Homo sapiens: one gene and its partners. The protein of the gene in region 1 interacts with the protein of each later gene in a pairwise test. Each region holds a gene or a part of one and is shown on either strand. Other genes may lie near its edges.

Region 1 (3,500 bases):
CTCTGTCCCCCAGGCTGGAGTGCAATGGCTCGATGTCAGCTCACTGCAACCTCCATCTCCCAGGTTCAAGAGATTCTTGTGCCTCAGTCTCCTGAGTGTCTGGGACTACAGGCACGTGCCACCATGCCTGGCTACTTTTTGTATTTTTAGTAGAGATGGGGTTTCGCCACGTTGGCCACACTGGTCTTGAACTTCTGACCTCAAATGATCTGCCCACCTCAGCCTCCCAAAGTGCTGGAATTACAGGTGTGAGGCACCATGCCAGGCCAAGAAACTATTTTTAATCTTCATTGTGCAGATAAGTAAAAGAAGGCATGTAGTGGGTAAAGGCCTACTTCTGGCCGGGTGTGGTGGCTCATGCCTGTAATCCCAGCACTTTGGGAGGCTGAGGCGGGTGGATCACCTGAGGTCAGGAGTTTGAGACCAGCCTGACCAACATGGAGAAACCCCGTCTCTACTAAAAATACATAAATTAGCCGGGCATGGTGGCGCAAGCCTGTAATCCCAGTCACCCAGGTAGCTGAGGCAGGAGAGTCGCTTGAACCCGGGAAGTGGAGGTTGCAGTGAGCTGAGATTGCGCCATGGCACTCCAGCCTGGGTGACAAGAGAGAAACTCTGTCTCAAAAAAAAAAAAAGCCCACTTCTTCATTGCATCTTGTGAAGATTGAATGAGATAACAAGTGTTAGTTATTACTCTCAACATCTCTTCAAACCACCTTTATGCTTGCCTCTCTCAGACTCCTCTTCCTCCTCTCCCCACAGGCCTGTGTGGCCCAGCCATGCGCTCTCCCACTTGGGTCCCTGCCCTGGCCGCGGCCTGGGCTACCCACCCAGGTAGCCAAAGGAATCTTTTTTTGTTTTGTTTTGTTTTGTTTTGTTTTGTTTGTTTGTTTTGTTTTGAGATGGAGTCTCGCTCTGTCGCTCAGGCTGGAGTGCAGTGGCGCAATCTCAGCTCACTGCAAGCTCCACCTCCCGGGTTCAAGCCATTCTTCTGCCTCAGCCTCCCAAGTAGCTGGGACTACAGGCGCCCGCCACCATGCCCAGCTAATTTTTTTGTATTTTTAGTAGAGACGGGGTTTCACCGTGTCAGCCAGGATGGTCTCGATCTCCTGACCTTGTGATCTGCCCGCCTCGGCCTCCCAAAATGCTGGGATTACAGGCGTGAGCCACCATGCCCGGCCTGTTTATTTTGTTTTTGAGATGGAGTTTTGCTCTTGTTACCCAGGCTGGAGTGCAATGGCGCTGTCTCAGCTCACTGCAACCTCTGCCTTCCGGGTTCAAGCAATCCTCCTGCCTCAGCCTCCCGAGTAGCTGGGATTACAGGCATGCACCATAAGAGATGGGGTTTCTCCATGTTGGTCAGGCTGGCCTCAAACTCCTGACCTCAGGTGATCCACCCGCCTCGGCCTCCCGAAGTGCTGGGATTACAGGCGTAAGCCACTGCGCCCAGCCAGGAATCTTTTTTACACATCACTGTAATCCCCCCTAGCTCTCCAGTGCCCTTAGGTAAAAAATCCAATCTCCTCCAAATGGCCCATCCTGTCCTGAGACACCTATCTCCTGGGAACCTTTCTGGGACCTTCTTCCATGAACTCTGCCCTCCAGCAGTTAACCCTTTGCAATACTGCACCTCTGGTCCTCTGCACTTGCAGTTCCCTCTACCTAGATCACCCACCCCCTCTTGTTTTTGAGACAGAATCTCACTCTGTCACCCAGCCTGGAGTGCCATAGTACAATCACAGCTCATTGTAGCCTTGACCTCCCTGGTTCAGGTGATCCTTCCACTCGGCCTCCTGAGTAGCTGGGACCACAGGCATGTGCCACCACTCCCGGCTAATTTATTATTATTATTACCCATAGAGATGGGATCTTTCCGTGTTGCCCAGGCTGATCTTGAAGTCCTGGGCTCAAGCAGTCTCCTGCCTTGGCCTCCCAAAGTGCTGGGATTACAGGCCTGAGCCATGGTGCCCAACCTGAATCACTCCTTTTTTTAGACCCCCACTGTCCCTCTGAATCACCCTTTTTATTTTTATTTTATTTTCGAAGGAAGTCTCGCTGTTGTCCCCCAGGCTTGAGTGCAATGGCTCCATCTCAGCTCACTGCAACCTCCGCCTTCCAGGTTCAAACGATTCTCCTGCCTCTGCCTCCCAAGTAGCTGGGATTAAGGCACCTGCCACCATGCCCAGTTAATTTTTGTATTTTTTAGTAGAGACGGGGTTTCACCATGTTGGCCAGGCTGGTCTCAAACTCCTGACCTCAGGTGATCTGCCCGTCTTGGCCTCCCAAAGTACTGGGATTACAAGCGTGAGCCACCGCGCCTGGCCAAATCACCCCTTTTTAAAGCGAACTCCCTCCATTCCAGTCTCACCTGAGTGACCACGGCAAAGATGTTGGACTTTGTCATCAGGATCTGCAGGCAGCCCTCCCTGAAGCCCTTCCCACTCCCCACTGGGTTAGGAACCTCCTTTGGGCTCTCAGTGCCTGTGGGCTTTCCCATTACAGCCCTGATAACTCTGGCCTGTGAGTGTCCCTTCTCACAGCCCCATCACTCTGGGTCAGGAGCCAGACAGCCAGGTCATTACTGAGGTCCACACAGAGGGAGGAAAGGACCAGATCTCACCTCATCTTTTGCCTGGAGCAAAAACTCACTGCCATCCTGGGTCCTGCAGGAAGGGACACAGGACTTCAGAGATCTGGGGAAGGGGCCCAGCCCACCTGCCCACCAAGTGTCCCCCAGGGAAGCCAGGGTCCCACTGGGAGTTGAAGCTGAGCCTTGGATCCCTCCCTCCTGCCCATTGGGGGGCTCACTGGAGCTTGAAGACATGCTTCTTTTTCTTGTAGTCACTAGCCACCTCGCTGGTGGCCTTGTGCAGGCTGAGCAGCGGTTCCCCACCGTGTGTGCTCCCGGATGCCGGGCCCTTGGAGTCCTTGTAGAAGCCCAGTTCCCCCTTACTAAGCACACAGTACAGGCTCACCCACGACCTGGAGCGACAAGATGGGGCTCAAGGCAGAGCCGCAGCACTCTGCCTAATAACTCTTCATTAACATCCTCAAGGTCTGAATATGTCTGAGCCTTCCTACCTCTGGACCTTTGCGCCCTAGTTGCGCCCTAGTTGGACCTAAAATGCTCTTCCTTAAGGCTGTTGCTGCCCTGAGGGGAGCATTTAAGTCTCTCAGTATCAAGCCTTTGCCCAGGCTGAGATTTCCCTTCCTTATCCCCTCCCATACTGAATTTCCTGAAGGTAAGTCTTAAGCTGTCTCCTCCATAAGCCTTTGCTCCACTCAATCCTCCCCACTCATGGAGCTTTCTCAAGGAAAGTCTATTGGTCTACTGTCTGGAATAAAGAATTCCTGTCTCTCCAGTCATCCAAAGCCTCGATCCTGGAGGAATCCCTCCCAAAGCAAAACATACTAGGTGCCCTTGTTTATTCCTACCTTGGCATTAGGTACGAGGAAGAAAGACCACCTACAGATTCCACTAGCAAAATCTGAATCTGTCC
Region 2 (3,500 bases), on another chromosome or scaffold:
CCTCTGACAAAAGACTAATATCGAGATCTGCAAGGTACTCAAACAACTCAACAGGTAAACAAACAAACAAACAAACCTATTAAAAGGTGGGCAAAGGATATGAACACGCATTTTACAAAAGAAGACATACAAGCAGCCAACAAACATGGAAAAATGCTCAATATCACTAATCATCAGAAAAATGCAAATTAAAACCACAATGAAATATGATTTTATATCAGTCAGGAGGGCTTTTATTAAAAAGTTAGAAAATAACAGATGTTGGCATGGATGTGGGAGAAAACAGGTACACTTATACACTGTTAATGGGAATGTAAATTAGTACAACCTTTATGAAAAACCATATGAAGATTTCTCAAAGAACTAATAATCAAAAAAATTTGACCCAGCAATCCCACTAATAGGTATGTACCTAAAGGAAAATAAATCATTATATAAAAAGGACACCTGCACTTGTATGTCTATCACAGCACTGTTCACAATAGCAAAGTCATGGAATCAATCTAAGTGTCCATCAATGGTTAATTGGATAAAGAAAATAGGTATATAGACACCATGGAATACTATGCAGCCATAAGAAAGAATAAAATCATTATCTTTGCAGCAACATGGATGGAGGTGGAGATTATTATCCTATGTGAAATAACTCAGAAAATCAAATATCCCATGTTCTCACTTATAAGTGGGAGCTACACAATGGATACACATGGACATACAGATGGAAATAATAGACACCGAGGACTCCAAAAGGGGAGAAGTTAAAAGGGAATTGAGGGTTGAAAAATTACCTACTGGTCACTGTTTGGTTGATGGGTACATTAGAAATCCAAACCCACCATTATGCAATACATCCACGGAAAAAACCCACAAATGCACCCCCAGATCTAAATTATTTTTTTAAGAAAAAGAAAAATAAATATGTATGTAAATATTCCACTGATTTGTTATTTAGATTAAAAGCAATAAATCTTTAATATCCTGTGTTGGTCATATGAAGTTATTCAATAACAAGCTTTCTACTTAACTTACATCCCAGTCAATATTTGCAAAAAACAGATGTCTTTTGATTTCTTCAACTCCTTCTGATCCTATAAAAAAAAGAAATGATATTTTATTTTTATGATTTTTTTTAGTCTTGCTCCCTGGCTTCCAGACTGCTATCTGTAAACAGGAATACACATATTTCATACATTCCTTGAAAAGAAAAATACATGATTTCTTATCTGGCATTTTATTAGCTGGTCCTTTCATTTTACTGTGATAAAAAATAACTAACATTCATATTGAACTACAATAAAGTGTCTCCCAAATCAAATCAAATAGTATTAAACATAATACTTAAACTTAAATACATATTTTTTCATTCCTAATTTATCTTATGACCTCATATTTATATGCCAAATTGAAAGGTACAAAGGAATAAAGTGACACTGAAATTTTCACACAAGGGCATAAATAATAGGATCGCATCTGGATACAGGGAAAGGCTACCAGAAAGGGGTCAAAAAAGTAGTTACAGAAACATAATATTTACTTTGAAGAATATTGGGGGGGGGCAAAATATCTATCTTCAAATATATAAAAGATTACCTGTACAAGGGAGAATCTGTTTATTATTTCAAAAGAAGTAACCCATAATATATACATAATAATAGGTTGAACAGAAGCTTTCATTAACTAGACTACTTCAGTTTTAAATCATGGACATAACAGAGTTTACTTTGTCTGAAATGCACACACAAAATGAAAAATTCTACGTATAGAAGTAATGTGCTCAAATCAAACAAGAAAACATAAAGATTTAATTATCCTCCCAAAACATGCAGTTACTTCTATAAAAGCTAAGAAAATAAGCAATACCCAATCTATTTGCTGGATTCCTTTTGAATAACATCCTTAGAAGACTTTGTGCTTCAGCACTAAGAAATTGAGGCATTCCAAGTTTTGCTCTGAAACAGAGGATTTTAGAAAGTTTCACTTAAATTTAGCCACATTTTTGATTTGAAAAATCTCAAAAAGAACTTTTAAAAGTGCTTTTACAAGGGTACAGTCCTGTATATGGTAGAAGGGAACAAGACAGTGAGAAAAAGGTACTCTTGTATTATTTTAAAACCGCAATAATTTTTTCAAAACTGAAAGCAAGAGATTTTTTTCCCAAAAGAAAAACATACTGTTTACACTTACTTTAATATCATATTCATGGTCTCATTTCTGTCTTTACCTTGAAATGGCAGAGTACCAGTAAGCATTTCAAACTAAAACAAACAAACAAAACACACCACACAATTAGAACACCTTAGAATATATAATAAGATTCTCTAGAAAAAAACTGAGACTTCTATATAATCATCAAATTGTAAGATCTACATGATAGTAGATCAAAATGGGACCAGAAAACTAGGTCACTTAAAGAAATATACTTCTGGTATCCCACTCTCTCTCTCTATATATATAGCTCAACTGATGGTGACCTGTAGCAGATGAAACCAACCAATTCTTCCTCAGTTCTAATTCGGCTATGTTCTCAAAGCCAAAGCAATTTGAAAATACACACAATGCATTTTCTGTTAAAACAAATATACTCTTTTGAAGAGAATGTTTAATAATAAAGGAAAAGGAAAAATAAGCAGAAAAGCATTTCAAATTCATACATGCCCAAGAAAGATTTAACCATTCTCATTCCCTCCACTGCCCCCAAAACAGGAGCCAAAAAAGAAGTAGAAGCAGCAGAACACACCACCACCACCACCCCCTGCCACACACACACATGCCAATAGCTTTAAAAAAGAAACATACACCTTAGTTGTACACAGAAGAAGGAAAACATTTTCTCAAAGAGAACTGACTGCAATGTGACTAACTAGAACATTAAATAATGGTATAAAAAAAGACTACCTCTAAAAATCATTACGGTACATTAAAGAGAAGTTTTTGTATCACCAGTATTTAAATCTCAAACTTAGATTCAATAATGGCTTTGGCCTTAGTCTTCTACTCATTTATCTGAACTCACAATCTAAGTGAGCTTATACATTCAAGTCTCTTCTGTATCTTAATGTCTCCCAAAATCTGCTGTTCAAGGCTTAATCTCTCTCAAACTCCAGCTTTCCTTCCCAAATCTTAAGTAATGGTACGCCACCAAAGACTGGAGGAGTAGAGGTGAGAACTTCAGGGAGAGAATGAAGGAAGGATCGTATATAGGACTCACATCTTCCCTCAAAGAAACTACACGTTGGGTAGTTAATATATACGTATTAAGGTCTCCAAATGATTCTGATTCTCTCTCCACTACCCCTCCTAGTTTATCACCACCCAGTGGTGAGTCATTAACCTACAGTAACCTATGCTACATGTTAAAAATTATTTTTTCCCACTTCCAAAACCAGCTGTCCTCTTCAGCTATCTCTTCTATTAACTTACCATTCTTTGAACCCCCTAAAGCTCACAAATTTTATAGGCATTTTTATCTTTGACAATTCATTTCTTTTTGATCTGTGTCA
Region 3 (2,468 bases), on another chromosome or scaffold:
AAAAGTCCTTTTTTTTTGAGACGGAGTTTCGCTCTTGTTGCCCAGGCTGGAGTGCAATGGTGTGATCTCGGCTCGCTGCAACCTCCACCTCCCAGGTTCAAGTGATTCTCCTGCCTCAGCCTCCTGAGTAGCTGGGATTACAGGCATGCATCACCACACCCGGCTAATTTTGTATTTTTAGCAGAGACGGCATTTCTCCATGTTAGTCAGGCTGGTCTTGAACTCCCGACCTCAGGTGATCCGCCCGCCTCGGCCTCCCAAAGTGCTGGGATTACAGGCGTGAGCCACTGCGCCAGGCTGAGAAAAAGCTTTTGAAAACAGAATATACATGCTCTGAGGAAAGAGGAGCTCAGCCTCAGTCTTAATGGAAACAGTCTTCAAAAAATAAACTGCAATTAAAGTAGTTAAAATGAGCTCAAGTTGAGGGTCTAATGAATACATTTTTAGTTTTAAAATAATTTGAGGTTAATATTAAGTCTTTAAAAGTAGCATTTGAACAGTTAGCCATCATATATTTTTATTTTATTATAAGATATTTTAAAATTTGGGAAATTACAATTGTGACAGAAAACCAGCTTCATACCAAAAATACACTTTCAATTACTTTATCAGGCAAATAAAAACAATCTTCATTTATTTGCTCTTTCCAGAATTACTATACAGTAAAAATTCAATACTGTATATGACCGACACGTATTAAGCATACATACAAAATGAACGGATTGAATGTTCAAAAACAAAGGTAAAAATAAATAGCAATGATAAAACTTTGGAAAAAATAATGCACATTTTAGTTGTGGAAAATATGGTTCTTATATATACATAGTTTATACTTAATAGAAAGCCATCTCTTTAAAATTGCACAAAACATGGGACCAATAAAGCATAGTATTTTATGGCATGTAATACTATAATCCTAAGGAAATTTGTTCCTTGACTCTAGGATATAAAACACTTAGGTTTGTAATATAATAAAAGGTATGTAGTATTGTTTGAGAAAGACTGTCTTCCTCAACTCACATTAACCTGTAGTAATCCTACAAAAGGCTGTACAGGAAATTTCACAAAAAGAAATATTAAAAAATTATCATGCCCACTTCATGCTGACTAAACAGCCAAAAATGGGCTTCAAAGTAAACTTGGTGGCCATTTAATATTTCAATACCTTTTTTCTGTTAAAGACTGTTTCTTCATTCTATAAAAACACTTTGTGTTTAACCGTGATTGGCAATCTCAGCACAACAAAATCCTGGCAAAATGGAGTTGGTTTTTGCTTACCTTATTTTCATGAATAAAATATTTCAGGACAGGAATTTATACAAAAGAAACATTAATGCTCAATTCACTTATAACCAGAGTTGTATCAGGAGTGTTACTACATTATTTAAAAATCCTATTTAAACTCCTTTATAAGAAAATCAAAGGTAACATTTCCATTTGTATTATGGCATAGCCCTCGACTTAGAGAAAAATACACTTTGGGGAACCAGAAAAAATTGCACAAAGCTTAGGGGCAACCTGAAAAGCTCTTGGTGAAAAACACTTGAGTACTCTAGGGCAATAAAAAAATATGTGCAGGCTTAATTACAAATATTTACATTCAAAACAGAGTCATGAGTTAGCTTCAGCTGCTCAATGCCAACAATTCACAGGTATTTCAAAACATAAGATAATGTGTCCACAATATTTGTGACCACATTTGAATGCATAGAATACAGTAAAGATTATGGTTTTCAGTCTGTTGCCTATCATATCTATAAAACAAAATTAATTATATTTTGAAAGCTGTACAACCAAAAGAATTGAGCAAATATTTTATCTTACATAACATATACTTTAAGTACTACTGATTTCACTCATTTGTTCAACAACTTGTCCTAAAATCTCATCAACTACATCAACATCGTAATTCACTTGCTGAAGATCAAGATCAGGCACAATCATAGCCAGCAGTTGTCCTACGTTAACTCGAAGAGATCGGAGTTTGAGGCTGCAAATACAAATATGTAACTTATTAGATGAGCATTACAAGTTAAGATTCATGTAGACCTTAAAAAGTAAAATATCAAAATCAAATCTCCGTAGAATAATATACAATTAAACAAAAGGAAAAGCAAAACCTCCCCTAGAGAACTCAATTTACTTTAATAATTCACTTTTATGAGTCAGGTGCACTTGCCCATGCCTGTATTCCCAGCATTTGTGAAGCCGAGGAGGGAGATCGCTGGAGCCCAGGAGTTCGAGACCAGCCTGGCCAACATGGTGAAACCCTGACTCTACTAAAAACACAAAATATTAGCCGGGCTTGGTGACGACACCTGTAGTCTCAGCTTCTCAAGAGGGTGAGGTGGGGGATCACCTGAGCCCAGGAGGTCAAGGCTGCAGTGAGCTGCGATGGCACCACTGCTCTCCAGGGTTCACGCAATTCTCCCACCTCAGCCTCCTGAGTAGCTGGAAGCACAGGCCCA
Region 4 (3,500 bases), on another chromosome or scaffold:
TTAAAGTGTTGAATACTTAAATCCTCACAAGTGAATTATGAACCATTTGTAAAGTGTTTCTATAACTCTTTGTATCATGTGTTGGTACATCTTATCAAGTTTTTTCTGGCATGTAATTCCATTCTAAACTTATGTAAAATTTCTATTGTTGCTGTAAATATTACACAAATATCTATTCCGTGATAACCTTCATTATCAGCATGAAATGGTTAATTTTTACTGAGCACAATGTATTTTTGAATGGATCTTCCCAAATGTCTTTAATAAAATGCAGATTTTGCACTGACTGATGTGACTGCCAGGCCGTCCCAATCTTGAGCACTGTGGTCCTTCGTGTTTGAACTGCGAACAGCTCCATTTTAGTTCCTTCTTGGGAAGAAAGAATGCATTCGAATTCAAATGAGGGATGATGGGCCTTTGAGGTTGTAATCAGTTTGAGACAGAAATTAATGTAAAACTAGGCAAATCCTGTAACTTAATGATGTTGATCTTTGTTTTCCTATTTATAAAGCTTTTTTCCCCTTACGGCATTTTGAAAACTTTGGTTTGTTTTATACTTGAGTGTTGTCACCTTTGCACGTCGCTAGACACTCACGTGGTAGTTTGAGGAGGATGGGAAGAGAGGCCAATCTTGTGCTAAGTGCTATGGAGAAAGCAAAGATGCACAGCTTAATAAGGGTTTTTTGATTCTAGAGGAGAGGTGGGCAAGCTTTTCCTGTAAAGGGCCAGATGGTAAATATTGGGGGCTCTGTGGCCCATCAGTTCCCTGTCAACATTACTCAGCTCTGCCTTTGTATTGCAGAGGCTGCATGGATAATATGTAAATCAGTAAGTGTGGCTGTGGTCCCGTAAAACTTTACTTATAGAAACAGGCCATAGTTTACTAACCCGTTTTAGGCCCTCAGTTTCATCATTTAGGGTAACACCAACCGAGTACATGTTCAATCAGGAGGGAAAGAACTTAGCTTTTGTGATAACTTATAGATGAAATATTCCCCAGTTTTCTTTCTCTTTCTAAACAAAGGGTAGGAGCTGAAAGTCAGTGCTCTCCATTCTTAAAAGTCCTCTGTCAACCACCTCTTCACTCTATCTCCTTAAGTGACATGGAAACTTGTGGCCTGTGCTTTCAACTATAATCTTACCAAGACTGAATGAAAGTATTTGGTGCTTATACTTTTTAATGTTCATAGCACTTACTATGGCCAGGCACAATGCCCAAGTGTTTTGCTTTATTATTATTATTATTATTATTATTATTATTATTATTATTATTATTTTCACAACAACCCAGCGAAACAGGTACTATTATTATCCCCTTTTTGTAAATGAGGAAACAGATTTCCATACTTGACATTAACCTGCCCAAGGTCACCCAGTTTGGAAGTGGCAGGGCCAGGATTTGAAGCCGAATATGTTCATTGTAAAGCCCATATACCCTTAAAAGTCACTGCACGTCCACGTATGGTAATGTGGTCACAATCAGTATTGTTTCTCTTTAGTAATTCAGATTTATTCAAGTAACTCCAAGGTTCAAATTTTCAAAAACAGTTTCCAACACAGGTTATATTAAAAACTTTGCCTGAAGTTTACTCTAGGTGCAGAAATAAAGACAACTTAGTCAAGTGAAGGAAAGGGTAACAGACTTAGAAATGGCTATCTACACTGATGGAATAAGTATACTAATTAGAGCAGGTAACAAGTCCCCACGATGTATAACATATTCTTCTCTAAAAGCTCACAACAATTTATGTGCCACCTTCCATCCCCTTTCCCAGCAGATGGTAATTGATGCAATTTGAGAATAGAACACTTCATTGAAACAAGTCACTGGAGGTCCTCTGGGGATGCAGCTTAAAAGCCCAGGATCAGGCCAGGTGTGGTGGCTCACGCCTGTAATCCCAGCACTGTGGGAGACTGAGACGGGCAGATCACCTGAAGTCAGGAGTTCGAGACCAGCCTGGCCAATATAGAGAAACCCCGTCTGTACTAAAAATACAAAAATTAGGTCTGGGCGGTGGCTCACGCCCGTAATCCTAGCACTTTGGGAGGCCAAGGTGGGTGGATCACGAGGTCAGGAGTTCGAGACCAGCCTGGCCAACATGGTGAAACCCCGTCTCTACTAAAAATACAAAAATTGGGTGTGGTGGTACATGCCTGTAATCCCAGCTGCTTAGGAGGCTGAGGCAGGAGAATCACTTGAACCCAAAAGGCAGAGGTTGCAGTGAGCCGAGATCACGCCACTGCACTCCAGCCTGGCAACAGAGCGAGACTCTGTCTCAAAAAAAAAAAAAAAAAAATACAAAAATTAGCCGGGAATGGTGGTGAATGTCTATAATCCCAGCCACTCGGGAGGCTGAGGCAGGAGAATCACTTGAACCCAAAAGGCAGAGGTTGCAGTGAGCCAAGATCGCACCACTGCACTCCCACCTGGACGACAGAGCGAGACGCCATCTCAAAAATAAATAAATAAATAAATCCCTAGGATATAGAGTCCGCTTGCCTGGGTGGAGTCTTGGCTCCATCTCCTACATCTCATGTGACTTGAAGCAAGGCACTTCACTATGCCTCAGTTTCCTTATCTTTAAATGGAGGTAATCACAGTACCTACCTCAGTGTTGTTGTGAAGATTTAATGAGATAATAACCTGCAGAGCACTTGAGAGTCTCAAGAAATATGAGCTCTTATAACATTATTGCTATTGTAAAACATTGCTATTACTTCTGTCCCAATTTGGCAGTTTCAGGAAATTGAGAAGGAATGTCACTGAATCTTTAATGCCAGTTACACAGAGCTCAGTAGGTGTCCGCACAGCCCTTTAGATGCACGTAGCCTATTTGATCTTCGTATCAGCCCTGTAAGGTTGGGCTTAAGAATGACCCAGCATGGAAGTACTCTTGGGACCACAGGGGAAGCAACAGTCCTTGTAAGCTGTTTGTCAGTGGGCCTTAGCAACCAAGCCCCAAGTGGACAGAAAGATGGGGTTCTGTGAGCATCCATTCCAAGGGTCACTTTAGGGGTGCAATCTTCTGGGCTCTGAGAATGGATTCACAGCAGCATCTCTATCTGGAAATACCTTTGCTTTGTCCAAGTAACCTCCTCCCACACAGAGTACCCGAATCAGCTCAGATTTTTTTTCCTTAATATTGGCAACACTTAATGCTACTTCTTTGTTCGTAACATTTCATTTAATTATTTAAAAATCTGCAAATGTTGTGTATATTTTACCGCAATTTTTAAACAAACTCCAGTGTAGACCGTGCTCTAGCATTTCTAAAAATAAAAGTAAATATGTTAAAATAAGGTAAGAGTGAGTTTTTCCTACACTATGTATAATTTTTAATTGAAAGTTTCCCCCACAAAAGAAATGATACTTGGAAGCATAGTTTGTGTGTTTGACAGCAAGATTCTATTAGGCTTCAGATTTCCCTCAATAAAAGTTTTAGTTTTTATACATTCTGTCATGAATTGAATGAAGTAAATAATATGCTGTTGTAAGCAAA

Evidence for each region. The genes of interacting proteins can lie anywhere in the genome.
Region 2: the proteins of SPTBN4 (region 1) and RPS6KA6 interact in a two-hybrid assay, tested with the Homo sapiens proteins (one large-scale study listed by BioGRID and IntAct).
Region 3: the proteins of SPTBN4 (region 1) and MORC3 interact in a two-hybrid assay, tested with the Homo sapiens proteins (one large-scale study listed by BioGRID and IntAct).
Region 4: the proteins of SPTBN4 (region 1) and CDKL5 interact in a two-hybrid assay, tested with the Homo sapiens proteins (one large-scale study listed by BioGRID and IntAct).

The regions. Positions count from the first base shown.
Region 1 is NC_000019.10:40,571,501-40,575,000, reverse strand, and holds part of SPTBN4 (spectrin beta chain, non-erythrocytic 4), read right to left. Parts: intron 2,983-3,500; coding exon 2,809-2,982; intron 2,664-2,808; coding exon 2,621-2,663; intron 1-2,620.
Region 2 is NC_000023.11:84,115,200-84,118,699, forward strand, and holds part of RPS6KA6 (ribosomal protein S6 kinase alpha-6), read right to left. Parts: intron 2,256-3,500; coding exon 2,185-2,255; intron 1,950-2,184; coding exon 1,861-1,949; intron 1,089-1,860; coding exon 1,030-1,088; intron 1-1,029. UniProt on the Homo sapiens protein: Constitutively active serine/threonine-protein kinase that exhibits growth-factor-independent kinase activity and that may participate in p53/TP53-dependent cell growth arrest signaling and play an inhibitory role during embryogenesis.
Region 3 is NC_000021.9:36,374,665-36,377,132, reverse strand, and holds the end of MORC3 (MORC family CW-type zinc finger protein 3), read right to left. Parts: intron 1,991-2,468; coding exon 1,837-1,990; 3' UTR 501-1,836; downstream 1-500.
Region 4 is NC_000023.11:18,635,108-18,638,607, forward strand, and holds part of CDKL5 (cyclin-dependent kinase-like 5), read left to right. Parts: 3' UTR 1-3,500. UniProt on the Homo sapiens protein: Mediates phosphorylation of MECP2. May regulate ciliogenesis.